Regions from separate parts of the Homo sapiens genome. Here regions 1, 2 and 4 are each reported to be linked to region 3. Evidence: microRNA targets listed by miRTarBase, many of them from high-throughput screens and not tested one by one. Region 3 holds a microRNA gene; each other region holds the end of a gene's coding sequence.

Region 1 (3,238 bases), not on the chromosome of region 3:
GTGCCTTATTCACACCTCAAACTGCAGTTTACCCAAGGAGAGGAAGCCAGCCCATCCTCCATGGGTCCCACAAACTACCCACTGCTCCTCAGCAGACAGTAAACCCCTAACTTGGCCAAAAGTAAAGATCTTCCATCCTGGGCTGGCTGCACTGAGTAATTGCTGACCTACATCTCTCTGAGATGCAGCCCCCAGAAGACAAGCAAAGAGATAATGCAGCAAGCCAGCTCATGTGGTGGCCAGAGGGTTTGGTGCAAGAGCATCTGTAGTAAAGTGTGGCCAGTGATGGCCATTTCTCTAGGCTCAACTGTCTCCCATAAGAGACTTTAGCCCTACGGGAACTGTTGGGCCTAATTTCTGCAGGATGGTCTTGCAAATCAGAAGAAGCTGGTCCAACTGAGCACTCCTTGGTCTGCTGGCCTCTCCCAGGGACCCAGTCTGGCCACAGCTGCTTACAGGGCAGTCTCAGGTACCCTGGAAGCTCATACCAGAGCATCTGCACTGGAGGGACATGCCTGACTCATGAAGAGCTCCAGCAAAGCAGCCCCTATGACTGCACCAGCCCACATTTCTTCCCCATACTGCAGCTTCCCGTGACACCATGGCAACTCCTGATATTTCTTTGCTGGCACATGTCTGCAAAGGCAGGTTTGGCTTTGCTTGCCCCACCAGCAAATGGGAATGCAATATGCCCCGCCACCCCCAGCAACTGCCATTGTAGATGAAACTTTGGTGGGCAGAGAGCCAGAAAACTCCACCCCTGCCTTTGTGCTAACACTGTGCAGAGAACAGGGTAACCTCCCACACTCTGAACAATCACTCTTTCTTGGGGGGCACAGAGAAGGCATCAAAACCTTTACTGGCCAGTATCCTGCCCCAAGCCAACACCACCTTTAGTGCAACAGCACACAGCCTCCAGCAGGTATCCCCCACTCCCTTCCCAGCTGCTTTGCTCCTGCCACTGAGGTGAGTACCCAAAGACAGGCAGAAATCCCATATCCACTAGCACTCTGCTCCAGCTATGGCACCTTCATCCCACAAACTCGCAAACTCCAAATCTCAAGGAGCCAGAGAACACAGTTGGGGCTCAAAACAAGTCCCCCGGAGTTAGAGTATGCAGCCTCTGAGTTGTGAGCTGAGCATTGCCCACCCACCACCACCACCAAACAAAACAAAACAAAACAAAACAAAACAAAAAAAACCTCCCAGGAACAAAGCCTGTTGGCTGCATCCATCTTATACCACAATCAAATACTCAAGACCATCAAATAGGATTAAAAAAAAAAAAGCCCAAAGGTCAGCAACCTCAAAGATATGCCCACAAAGATAAGACACAATCAGTGCAAAGATAAAAACACAAAAAGCCAGAGTGACTTCTTTCATCCAAATGACCAAATTACATTTCCAGCAAGGCCTAAGATGACAGAAGTAGAATTCAGAATATGGGTAGAAACAAACTTCACTGAGTTACAAAAGTAATTTGCAACCCAATGCAAGGGAGGAAAAAAAATTGCAGGAACTGACGGAAAAAACAGCCAGTCTGGAGAAAAAATGTGGCCAACCTGATAGAACTGAAAAACACAATACAAAACCTTTATAATGTAATCACATATATTAACAGCAGAATAGGCCAAGCAGAGGAAAGAATCTCAGGGCCTCAAGACTGGCTTTCTGAAATCAGACAGACAAGAACAGTGAAAAAAGAATAAAGAGGAATGAACAAAACCTCTAAGAAATATGGGATTATGTAAAGAAACCAAATCTATGATGCAAGAGATTGCCTGAAAGTGATGGGGAGAATGAAAACAACTTGAAATACGTATTTCAGGATAACATCCATGAGAACTTCCCCAACCTAGAGAGGCCAACATTCAAATGCAGGAAATGTGGAGAACCCCAGTAAGATACCCCAGGAGAAGGTCATCCTCAAGACACATAATCATGAGATTCTCCAGGGTCAAAATGAAAGAAAAAATATGTTAAAGGCAGCTAGAGAGAAAGGCCAGGTCACCTCTAAAAAGAAGCTCATCAGGAAAACAACAAATCTTTCAGCTGAAATCCTACAAGTCAAAAGAGATTATAGGGGCCAATATTCAACATTCTTAAAAAAAGAATTCCAACACAGAATTTCATATCTGACCAAGGTAAGCTTCAGAAGTAAAAAATATATATGATCCTATTCAGACAAGCAAATGCTGAGAAAATGTTACCACAGGATCTGTCTTAAAAGAGCTTCTGAAGAAAGCATTAAATAAGAAAAAGACTATTACCAGTCACTACAAAAGCACACTAAAGTATACAAACTGTGGACACTATAAAGCAACCACAGAAACAAATGTGCAAAATAGCCAGCTAAGATCCTAATAACAGAATCCAATCCACACATATGAATACTAACCTTAAATGTAAATGGGCTAAATACCCAAATTAAAGCACAGATGGCAAGCTGAAAAAAGAATCAAGATCTAATGGTATGCTTTAATCAAGACACCCATCTCAAATAAGCTCAAAATAAAGGGAAAAAGAAAAGCCTACCAAGCAAATAGAAAACAGGAAAAGAAGCAGGGGTTGCAATCCTAGTTTCTGACAAAACAGACTTGAAATTAACATAGATTTAAAAAAAAAGGGCATTACATAATAGCAAAGGGCTATATATGTACCCAACATATAAGCAACCAGATTATAAAGTAAGTTCTTAGAGACCCTCTAAGATGATAAATGTTCTTCCACTGTCATTACATTTATACTGCATTTGTTCAGTATTAAATTTCAGATGTTGAACACAGTATGAGGACTTGGTAAAGGCTTTTCCACATTTTTAACACTTGTGGAGCTTCTCTCTAGTATGAATTCTCTTATGTCTGATGAGGTGTGAGAACCAGCTCGATGCTTTGCCACATTCTTCACATTTGTAGGGTTTCTCTCCAGTGTGAATTCTCTTATGATTAGTCAGGTCTGAGAAGCACTTAAAGGTTTTGCTGCATTCTTCACATTTGTAAGGTCTCTCTTCCATATGAATTCTCTTGTGGTTAAAAAGGGTTGAGGAGCGGGTAAAGGCTTTGCCACATTCTTCACAGATGTAGGGTTTCTCTCCAGTATGAATTCTCTTATGTTTACTAAGGGCCGAGAACCACTTAAAAGCTTTTCCACATTCATTACATGTGTAGGGTTTGTCTCCAGTATGAATTATCTTATGTTTAGCAAGGTCTGAGAACCACCTATAGGCTTTGTTACATTC
Region 2 (3,000 bases), not on the chromosome of region 3:
AATCTGGCCCTTACATAGTAACTGCATGACAGATGTTGCACTTGAAAAATTGATACTTGGAGGAACAGCTATAAATATGTAAAAATAATTAAAACAAGATTCCAAAATCATGCCATAAAAGAAAACAAATTTCAGTTGGACTAAACATCTAAATGTTAAAAACAAAAATTTTGTAACTTTTGGAAGGCTGAATAGGACTATTTTTATGACATTTCCTATACAAAAACCAGAAAAAGCAAATCATTATGAAAGATTGGTAAAATTACGTTTTTAAAAATTCAAGATTTCATAACCAAAATATGAAGACAAACCAGACTAAAAAAGATAATTGGAACATACATAACAGATCATTAGTATTCAAAATATGTAATATCTAAAAACTGACAAGTAAAAAAAACAACATAGAAAAATGAGCAAAAATGCCTGTAATCCCAGTGCTTTATAGGAGGAGGCGAGATGGGAGGATTGTTTGAGTCCAAGTTTAAGGTTACAGTGAGCTATGATCCTGCCACCACACTCCAGCCTGAGCAATAGAGTGAGATCTTGTCTCTTAAAAAAAAAAAAAAGAGTAAAAGATATGGCCTCAGAAATCACACACTGCATTTGCTCAATATCCTGGTAGTTACAAAAGTCAGCACTGTAAAATGCAGGAGAAGGCTATACTGGGGCATGAACACCAGGAGGCCAGGGATCACTGGGGCCATCTGGAAGCTGGCTACCACATATATAAAACAATATTTTGTAGCGCTTTTAAAAAATATATTTGTATTAAAAATATAAAAACACATGCTATATTATGCCCCCTCTAGTGGTTACCTCTGGGGACTCTGGGGAGGGAGGAACGGGACAGGATCAAACAGGTAACAAAGCAAACTTCAAATGTATCTAACATTTGCAATTACATGCATATGTGTGTCTGAAGAAAATATAGCCAAATGCTAACATTTATTACATCTGCATGGTAGAAATACACGGATTTTCTTGAAATCATTTACCTTTCCTATATCTTTGAAATATGTCAATAAAGTTTTAAGGTAATGAATCCAAACAAATGGAAATAAAATGTGCTTTTAATAATAATTTATTTTTACACATTTTAAAAATTGCAATTTTCAGGAGATGTAAGAAGAATATTTTTCTAATACTGAAATAAGCATATCTTTGGTATAGAAATCACACCCTATGTGTTTATCTTTAACTAAAAAAACTAATCAAGAACTATGACCTAATATGTTAAACAAAACTATTCTTTGCCCATCCATCTGTCCCCTCTCATAGCCCCATTGTGGGGCATTAGAATATAGTTCTGTACCTATCTCCATATCTACAAAGAATTAAGATGTTGTATCAAAAATGTCCAGAAGTTATATATGGTAGAGAATTAGTTGGCTTAATCGTTGACACACAACACAAAACACCAAAAGCAACATAAGATACAGGATGCAAAATAGAACACTGTCACTAAGATCAAATAATACAAAAAAAATCACATCATTTAAATTTGATGCATTGCAAACAAAGTAACTTCTTTAGAATTATTATGTACACAACTTGCAAAGCTCAAAAAGTAATAGCACAGAGCCATAAATCTGATAAGGCACTTTAAAGATAGCAATCAAACATATACAAATATCAAATACAAACACTGTTAAACTGCAAAAGCAGTAACCACAGAAATAAATAGGGAAAAAATATGCATTCTTTCTAAACAGTCTTTCCCTTTCTGAAGTAAAGTCTTTAAAAAAAAAATCAAACAAGTACAAAAAATATTTATCATATATTTTTAAAACCTATCATCAAAGTCCAAATCTCTGTAAAAAAAGAATGTTTTTCTTCAAGTCAAAAAAGTTCAGATTCATACATTTCCTAGAGAAACAATGACAGTCTTCATGCTAAATATAGGAAGAAAAAAAGCTTTCAATTATGTTTGTTAACTCTTTTATTCAACAAACATTTAGTGAATGTTGTGTGACCCTGTTTTAGGTGCTGGGGATATAGAATAAAGACACAATCATTAGCTGTAGACAACTTAGCCTAACGGAGCTGGATCCACCACTGGCAACCTTAAAGTTACCTCCCTTGGTCCTTAAGATGAAACGCAACTTCAAAGTCTGCCATGCTTAGCATCTTGTTGCAAAACAAATAATGGTCTACCTAGTTTGCTACTGGTAGCACTGTGGCTCTATTAATATTAACCGTCTATTGATGAAGTTAACTTTCATAAAGGATTCTATGAAAGTTCAGAGGCATAAAGTATTTAAGGACAAACAAGTACTGGTCCGCAACAAAAATAGCATCGGTATTCTGCTTTCACAAAAACCAAGAAAACCAAGAAAAATTTCATTCTGAGTATATACAGAACTGCTGGACAGAGGTCATCCTATATGTGTGGTACATGTACAAAATATGACATAAGAAGTATGAATTATTGCAGTCATTATTAAACAACGAAGTATGCCAAATCAGTCATCAGGTTTCAAAGAATCATAGCCTTCTTTCAAGAGGTCCCGCCACGTTTTAAGGAAACGTGCATTTTCTGTACATTTGAAGGCAAGTTCTTCCACTTGAGCTGATACTGCAGATGTGGCTTCAAGAAGTTTGGTTAATGAAAAGGCTGCCTAAAAAAAAAAAGTCAAACATAATTTTATTTTTAAAATTCTCATCTCATTTTATAAGCAGGCTGAAAATAGCTTAAGGCTTTGAATCCAATGCCCATGTTATTTTCTTTCAAAGTAATCAGTTTTCAAACTACAGCACTGGCTCTTTCACGGAACCTAAGAAATTCTTTAATATTGAGTAGACTTTGAAGAAACAGGTCTGCTAGAAAAATATCCATTATGTCTGAGATATGACAAATCAGTATAGTTGTTTTCTTTTTTTTTTTTTTTTTTTGAGACGGAGTTTCGCTCGTTTCCCAGGCTGGAGTGCAATGGCGCGATCTTGGTTCACTGCAACCTCCGCCTCCCGGGTTCAAGTGATTCTCCTGCCTCAGCCTCCTTA
Region 3 (3,203 bases):
CAACTCAACCACACTGGGGAAACCATACCACAGGTAGCATTCACTAGTTTTAAGTAATATTTTGACATTTACTTCATGTTCTTCATTAATCAAAAGATCACTCTACGTCCCTCCCCAAACTAAATGTCACTCAACTCTACTTCCCTTAAAAGACATTATTCTGTTCATACTATTAATACTTACATGAATTCTAGAACTGCCCAACTGTTACTTTTATTATACACAAGCCTCTGACCTAAATTCAATAATTACATTCATGACTCCTTTCCTATATAGTTGTTCATCTGTTTTGAGGCAGGAAGATTGCTTGTGCCCAGAAGATGGAGGTTGCAGTGAGCCAAGATTATGCCACTGCACTCCAGCCTGGGAAAAACAGCAAGACACTGTCTCAAAAAACAAAACAAAACAAAACAAAAACAGTTTTCAAGCTTTCTGGACAGCTGGAGGTTAATAAGTAGTACTTCAGAAATATGAGCCGGGAACCATACTCTGCAGTTATTTTACATTATCTCCGATATTCTCAAACATCAAACTAAAGCTATTTTAGAGAAAGGAACCAAGTAACTCACTCAAAATTTCTCATAGGTAATGAGGAAAGCTCTGGCTGACTATAAGAAAAAAAAAATTGGATGACTAGGCTCTCATTTTGCTAAATTACCACGTTAATTATGAGCCCAACTACCACCCCTGCCAGCTTTCACTTATAAATGCTAGAAAAACACTTCACACAAAAAAATACATAAGATTACTATATTTCCTTTTAAGAGGAACGTTTCAACAAATTTTACAGGTGTCAATCAACCCTTGTTCAAATCGGGCACACATCAAATCTAGCATCATGGGTGTTTTATTTATTTGGAAGTGAATTTTAACTATCAATACAAATGCCAAGATACTACACAAAACATCCACAGGAACTTTTTTCATCTTTTTTTTTTTTGAATTGTACACAAACATTTCCTACATAATCCAACATACAACAGAGAAATGGTACATCTTTTTCTTTCAATTTGCATACAATGGAAAAACAAGTATATATATATTTTACAAAGTTTAACTAATAAGACACTAGAGCAAATTGACAGTTTAAGTCTATAGGTGAGAAATTATCTAATAAAAATAATCAATTTTTTCAGCATTAGTCACTTCCATAACCAAGTGTTATTCTGATTAATAAAACTTGCTGCCAATCAGAATTCTGGTATATACTCATACCATTACTCAACTTGTAGTACTGCTCCCCACCTTAGTTCTTCACAACTAACATAGAAAATTGTTGAAAAGTAGGGGCAAGCATTTGCAAAAACAAACAAAAAATCCCCAGCTTATTATAAGCATGAATATGTATGATGGAATTTCTTCCCAGCAATAGACTTCCAAACCATCAAGAAATCACCAGAACTAAGTTTGCCAAGTTATTTTGCCTATGTCCAACAAGAGATGCACTTATATGTCCAACAGAGGAGCTGAAAATTAAACTTAGTGTTTAGTTTGGGGGTGGGTTGGGAAATTCAGCCACCATTTTAAAATGACTGTCTTAAAAAAAAAATGACCACCAAAAATAGGTTCACTAAATTTATTTTAAAAATCATAAAACGTTTCTTACAAAAGAGCATTACATTCTGCACACTGCTCTGAACAGATGCCAGGGACATGTGGACTATTGTTACTTTTCCTCCCTGTCCCACCCCCCAAATGTTACAGTGACCACAAAGCAAGGTGTTCACAATAATTACATGGGGGGAATTTTTTAAACCACCAACAATAACGAAAAATAAAATCCACTCACTCTGCTGCTGTTTCAAAATTTCAATGTTAGTTTTTGCACGCCCTTCCCCCCCCCAACCCTGTTTGTAAGGAACTAAAACATTACATCTGGTGAACAGCAAAGATTTCACTACACCTCAAATGCAGAACACCTATGAAGCAGAGGAATGTTGGCTTTTTAAACAGAAGCAGATAAAAAAAAAAAGATGCAGGACTCCTTCAGTTCTTCACTAGTCTTAGAAAAACTTTCCAGAATACTGCTTCACACTATAAAAAAGAAAAAATATCTTGCATTAGAATCCTTCAACATCTGCATACTGCTTCACACTATAAAAGAAAAGAAAAAAAAGTGCGAATTAGAATTTTTGCTCGTAACATCTTAATCAACATCAAGACAATTTCAATGCTAAATTAAAATGATAAACACGTCCATTACAATTAGAAGAGTTCAAAAACCATTAGCAATTACAAATTAAAGCAATGTTAAGTGTCAAGAAAAATGATGAGTAGTAAATCGGACATTAGTAGAACAGAATTAAGAAAACGGAATTGAAAGTTGTTAATATTTGGTAGAAAAGACAAAGAATGCTAGTAAGGTGTGAAATGCTGCATTTTACAGCACCAATCATTTGTCCTGTAGAGGCATGGCCTGTGCCATATGGCAGACTGTGATTTGTTGTCGATTTAGTTATCTAAAAACAACAAAATCACTAGTCTTCCACACAGAACTAGGCCAACATCCAATGAATCTTCTATATTTTCTACAGGCTCTGTACAATTTTTAACAAGTGGTTTTGGCAGCAGTTTTCACCAGAGAAATGAGAAGTTTGCTTGGTTAAGGCTTCTTCCAGCAAGATTAGTATTGAATGTCTTCATTTTTAGTAAGAAAGCAGAAGAAAAATTAAGGCAAACTATTAGAATGTTTAGAAGTTAGGTCCCCAAAAGGTTGAGACACCATGGCTTCTAAAAGAAAAAAATCAATTGAGAAGAAAAGCTTTTTAAAGGTTTTAGTATGTATAAGCTAACACAAAGCTAAACTTAAACTGACCTGTTCTGCAGCAAATACTGTGCATTCTGTATCTGGTCCTGTGTTCCTGTAATGGTAATGATCCGATCTTCGGATCCTTCTAAAGGCTCATCAATTTTGATCGAAGCTCCCGACTCATGACGGATTTGTTTAATCCGCTGACCACCTTTGCCAATAATAGATCCAGCCAACTGAAAAGATTTTTTAAAAGTATGTGTTTACGATATACTTTTAACATTTACTACCTGTATTTTCAAGGAGCATGAAGTTATTAATTTTATTCATTCAGAATCTTAACTGATGATCTAACGCTCCCTAAACCTGTCAAGGTTTGAGTTATAATGTATTTATGTCACACTTACTAATGTTTCCCTTAGTTAGTTAAGGGCTCAAAACCTACTTAACTACT
Region 4 (3,210 bases), not on the chromosome of region 3:
CAAGCCAAACATTTGGCCATATTTTTATTTACTACATATACTATAAACATATACAATACATGCTACCAAAAAAAATTTTTTTTTAAATTTAACTGTCAAGAAAGTGTATAGTGTTATAATACAATGGCACATGTTTATATTTTATTTCAAATTGGTTTGCTTATCACCTATTTCAAACCATTAACAGTGAAATGTTACTTGTGGATAATTAAAAATTATCTATTTGCATTATTAACAATAAACAATTCCAACAAATTAATAAGAATTAACCATGTCAAATATTAGTATTCAAAAAATGGGATTTGCAGAAATGATTATATAAAATATAGCAGCCAATTTCAGTTTACTTTGCCAATAGGATTTCAGCATTTGCTTTTTTTTGGAAGACACTTATAAGACATCCTTTGATTTCTTGAGGGGCATTAACTGCCACACTCAACAGTCAAATCCAGCCCAGTGGTTCATGAACGGCCCTGGATCACTGATCACTGAGGAATCCTTAGGACTTGAGTAGCGCTGCCTGTTCCACTGATATTACATATGATGAAAAGAGACATTACAAGCCAATATCAAAGTCAAAGGAAAAGAAAATAGGAACATTCAAATCAGTTGTGACAAGGTTTTTCTACAAGTATTTTTGATGCCATACTTTCAGGAAAACAAGATTTAATGTGTGTGTGGACTTTACAGTATCTACGTTCTAACTGAAAATTTAACAAAGCAGTCAGATGGAATTACATGTAGTATTACAAATGTGTTCATTCAACACTAATGAGCACCCACTCTGTGCATAGCACTGGGCTACCATTTTACAAGTTGAGTTTAACGTCTTTATCAAGCATGACCTTAGTGTGAGGTAAAATACATTAAATTAGCGTCAACGCGTTAGTCTGCTTGCGGCCATGTACGGAATCCTGGGCCAGCTGGCTTCCCTGTGCCACGTCACCGGTTTCTCAGGTCTCCTCATTCACTCAGACAAATACGTGCACACTGACTGTGTGTCAGACAGTGTGCCGGTCACTCGGACACCACAATCTGGTATAGGTTCAAAGAATGTAAATTTATCATTTTAACCTATGCAGAACAATTAGAAAGGCAGATTATTTTTCCAAAATGAGGTCCAAAGCAAACTATAAGGTGTTTCTATTGGTCATACCACACCAGAGACCGGTAAGTGCCTTTATAGACTGAGAACTAACGTGGAAGTTTCATGCTGTCGTCTAAATAGCCTAGGTCATTTTTGGTCTCATAGGTCTATTTTGTGGAGCACCTGACCCCATATAAATCATTCCATACTTAAATGGGTTTGTAAACTAAACCTGAACATAAACAAAGAGCCAAAAATGAAGGCAGTTTACAATGTAATGTTCTTCAACAGCATTACTCTCCCCATGAGAAATGAATAATACATAAGTAATTCACAATTGGTTCAACATTTTTTTTTCTTTTTTTTTTCCTTTTTTTTTTTTTTGAGACTGAGTCTTGCCCTGTCGCTCAGGCTGGAACGCAGTGGTGCGATCTCGGCTCACTGCAGCCTCCACCTCCCAGGTTGAAGCAATTCTCCTGCCTCAGCCTCCCGAGTAGCTGGGATTACAGGCGTGCACCACCACGCCGGGCTAATTTTTTATATCTTTAGCAGAGATGGGGTTTCACTATGTTGGCCAGGCTGGTCTCGAACTCCTGACCTCATGATCCACCCGCCTCGGCCTCCCAAAGTGCTGGGATTACAGACGTGAGCCACCGCGCCCAGCCGGTTCAACATTTTTTCAAAGCACTAACCCTACCCCAAATTCATGTAATACTAACTTGACTTTTATACAAGTTGCACAGAATGCAGAGGGCAGAATTTGACCCCAAAACCTTCCACAGAATATCAGAGGTGATTGGTCCTTCCACTCTTGAGTAGAACCTAAGAATTCCAAGAGTCTCCTAATAGGATACTGGCCCTCTGGAGAAATGGCCCTGCTGGATCCCATTAGTTAGGACTCTAGTTAGCTGCTGTAGAAGGGTGACCTACTACGACCCTTTTGGGGAAGGCAGAGAGCTGGGAGACTGGCTGTCCACTTAGTGAATCCAACACTGGCTTAAAGCTATGCACTGAATAAAGTGCTCGGTACATCCTGCTTTTCACCTGGAATGAAAATACACACTTATCTTAGGAATTCACCTACTTACAGGTTTGGGGGACAAGAATGTCAAGGGCTAAAAGAATCCCAAGAAAAAGTATGAAGCATTGACTAGGAGGGAACAAATGCTTCTAGTAGTGTTCTTAGAATTCTTAGGATCTGAAATGTCAGAATGAGTCACACGCTGGTCATGCTCCATACAATGAAAGCAATCCTGCTTGATACTATTCACACGGTGCATGATTACTTCACGGGGGTGGAACGGAACAGTCTGTCGCCATTTGATAGTATGGTTCCAGAATGAAAACAAAACCACTGAATAAATCAGGGTAAGCAGTGTGTAACACTCCTTCCTGTCCATCGGTTTTCCACAGGGTGATTTGCACTGCCTGAGAGAAAGGAGGCAAGATACCTATCCCTTCTGATACACACAGGCACGACCACTACCGCCTCCAATTGCCAATTCAGAAGCTAACACACAAGCCCTCCAGTTCGTACCCTGAATATGGTAATTAAGACTAGGAATGGAGCAGTTCAGTCTAAAAAATATCACAGGTAACAGAATGCTTATATAAACTAGACTGCTTTTGACATCTGTAAGAAAATTGTATAGATGGCAGTTGGAAAAAAAAAAAAAAGATTGTTCCCATCTGTCAGCAAAACTGTTGAACTATACTCAGCTGAAGTCCTCATCGGGATTCTGTTGATCCAGCAGACGGACATGTGTGAATGGGAAGTGACCTCGTTTGCCATTACACTCCCCTTCCCACTGACCACTCACATTAATCTTCGTAACCTTTACCAGCTCACCGACCTGCAGGAGGAGAATAAGGAGAGCACTTTATTTCCAGGTAGGAATGCAAGCTGAACAACTCCATTCTCTGGTTAGGCACACCCTGCCCATGTGACTGCTCTAGGGATATTACAGAAATGGCCATTTGCTGCCTCCCCAGCCCCAGCCACCAGACTGATTACTTGTGGTTAATGCAGGCAGAAGGAAAAGTGTTTTTAGCAGTGTGGAAAAACAGAGAATACAGAAAGTAAAAGGGATTCCAGATAATGATACTTTTTGATTAAAAAAGGA

Evidence for each region. The annotated mature microRNA hsa-miR-7-1-3p reads CAACAAAUCACAGUCUGCCAUA and lies in region 3 at 2,425-2,446, opposite strand. An mRNA with a match to its seed (bases 2 to 7 or 8) in the 3' UTR can be bound and repressed. Matches are read on the target gene's strand: a 7mer-m8 pairs with bases 2 to 8, a 7mer-A1 pairs with bases 2 to 7 and ends in A, and an 8mer does both.
Region 1: the mRNA of ZNF736 is a reported target of hsa-miR-7-1-3p. Seed matches in the 3' UTR shown: 7mer-m8 at 2,331-2,337 and 7mer-m8 at 2,039-2,045.
Region 2: the mRNA of C4orf46 is a reported target of hsa-miR-7-1-3p. Seed matches in the 3' UTR shown: 7mer-m8 at 2,138-2,144, 7mer-m8 at 1,047-1,053, 7mer-A1 at 862-868 and 7mer-m8 at 124-130.
Region 4: miRTarBase lists CRK as a target of hsa-miR-7-1-3p. Seed matches in the 3' UTR shown: 7mer-m8 at 2,247-2,253, 7mer-A1 at 714-720 and 7mer-m8 at 250-256.

The regions. Positions count from the first base shown.
Region 1 is chr7:64,348,728-64,351,965 of GRCh38, reverse strand. ZNF736 (zinc finger protein 736) reads right to left here. Exons shown (of 4, transcript NM_001170905.3): 4 at 1-3,238. The coding sequence ends at 2,819. Among named protein-coding and RNA genes, the nearest start is that of ZNF736, 36 kb to the right of the region's middle.
Region 2 is chr4:158,667,151-158,670,150 of GRCh38, forward strand. C4orf46 (chromosome 4 open reading frame 46) reads right to left here. Exons shown (of 2, transcript NM_001008393.4): 2 at 1-2,618. The coding sequence ends at 2,463. Among named protein-coding and RNA genes, the nearest start is that of C4orf46, 3.2 kb to the right of the region's middle.
Region 3 is chr9:83,967,347-83,970,549 of GRCh38, forward strand. MIR7-1 (microRNA 7-1) reads right to left here and starts at 2,511; the gene lies at 2,402-2,511. HNRNPK (heterogeneous nuclear ribonucleoprotein K) reads right to left here. Exons shown (of 17, transcript NM_031263.4): 16 at 2,816-2,985; 17 at 737-2,094. The coding sequence ends at 2,061.
Region 4 is chr17:1,420,711-1,423,920 of GRCh38, forward strand. It overlaps CRK (CRK proto-oncogene, adaptor protein), which reads right to left. Exons shown (of 3, transcript NM_016823.4): 3 at 1-2,940. The coding sequence ends at 2,803. Among named protein-coding and RNA genes, the nearest start is that of CRK-AS1, 2.3 kb to the right of the region's middle.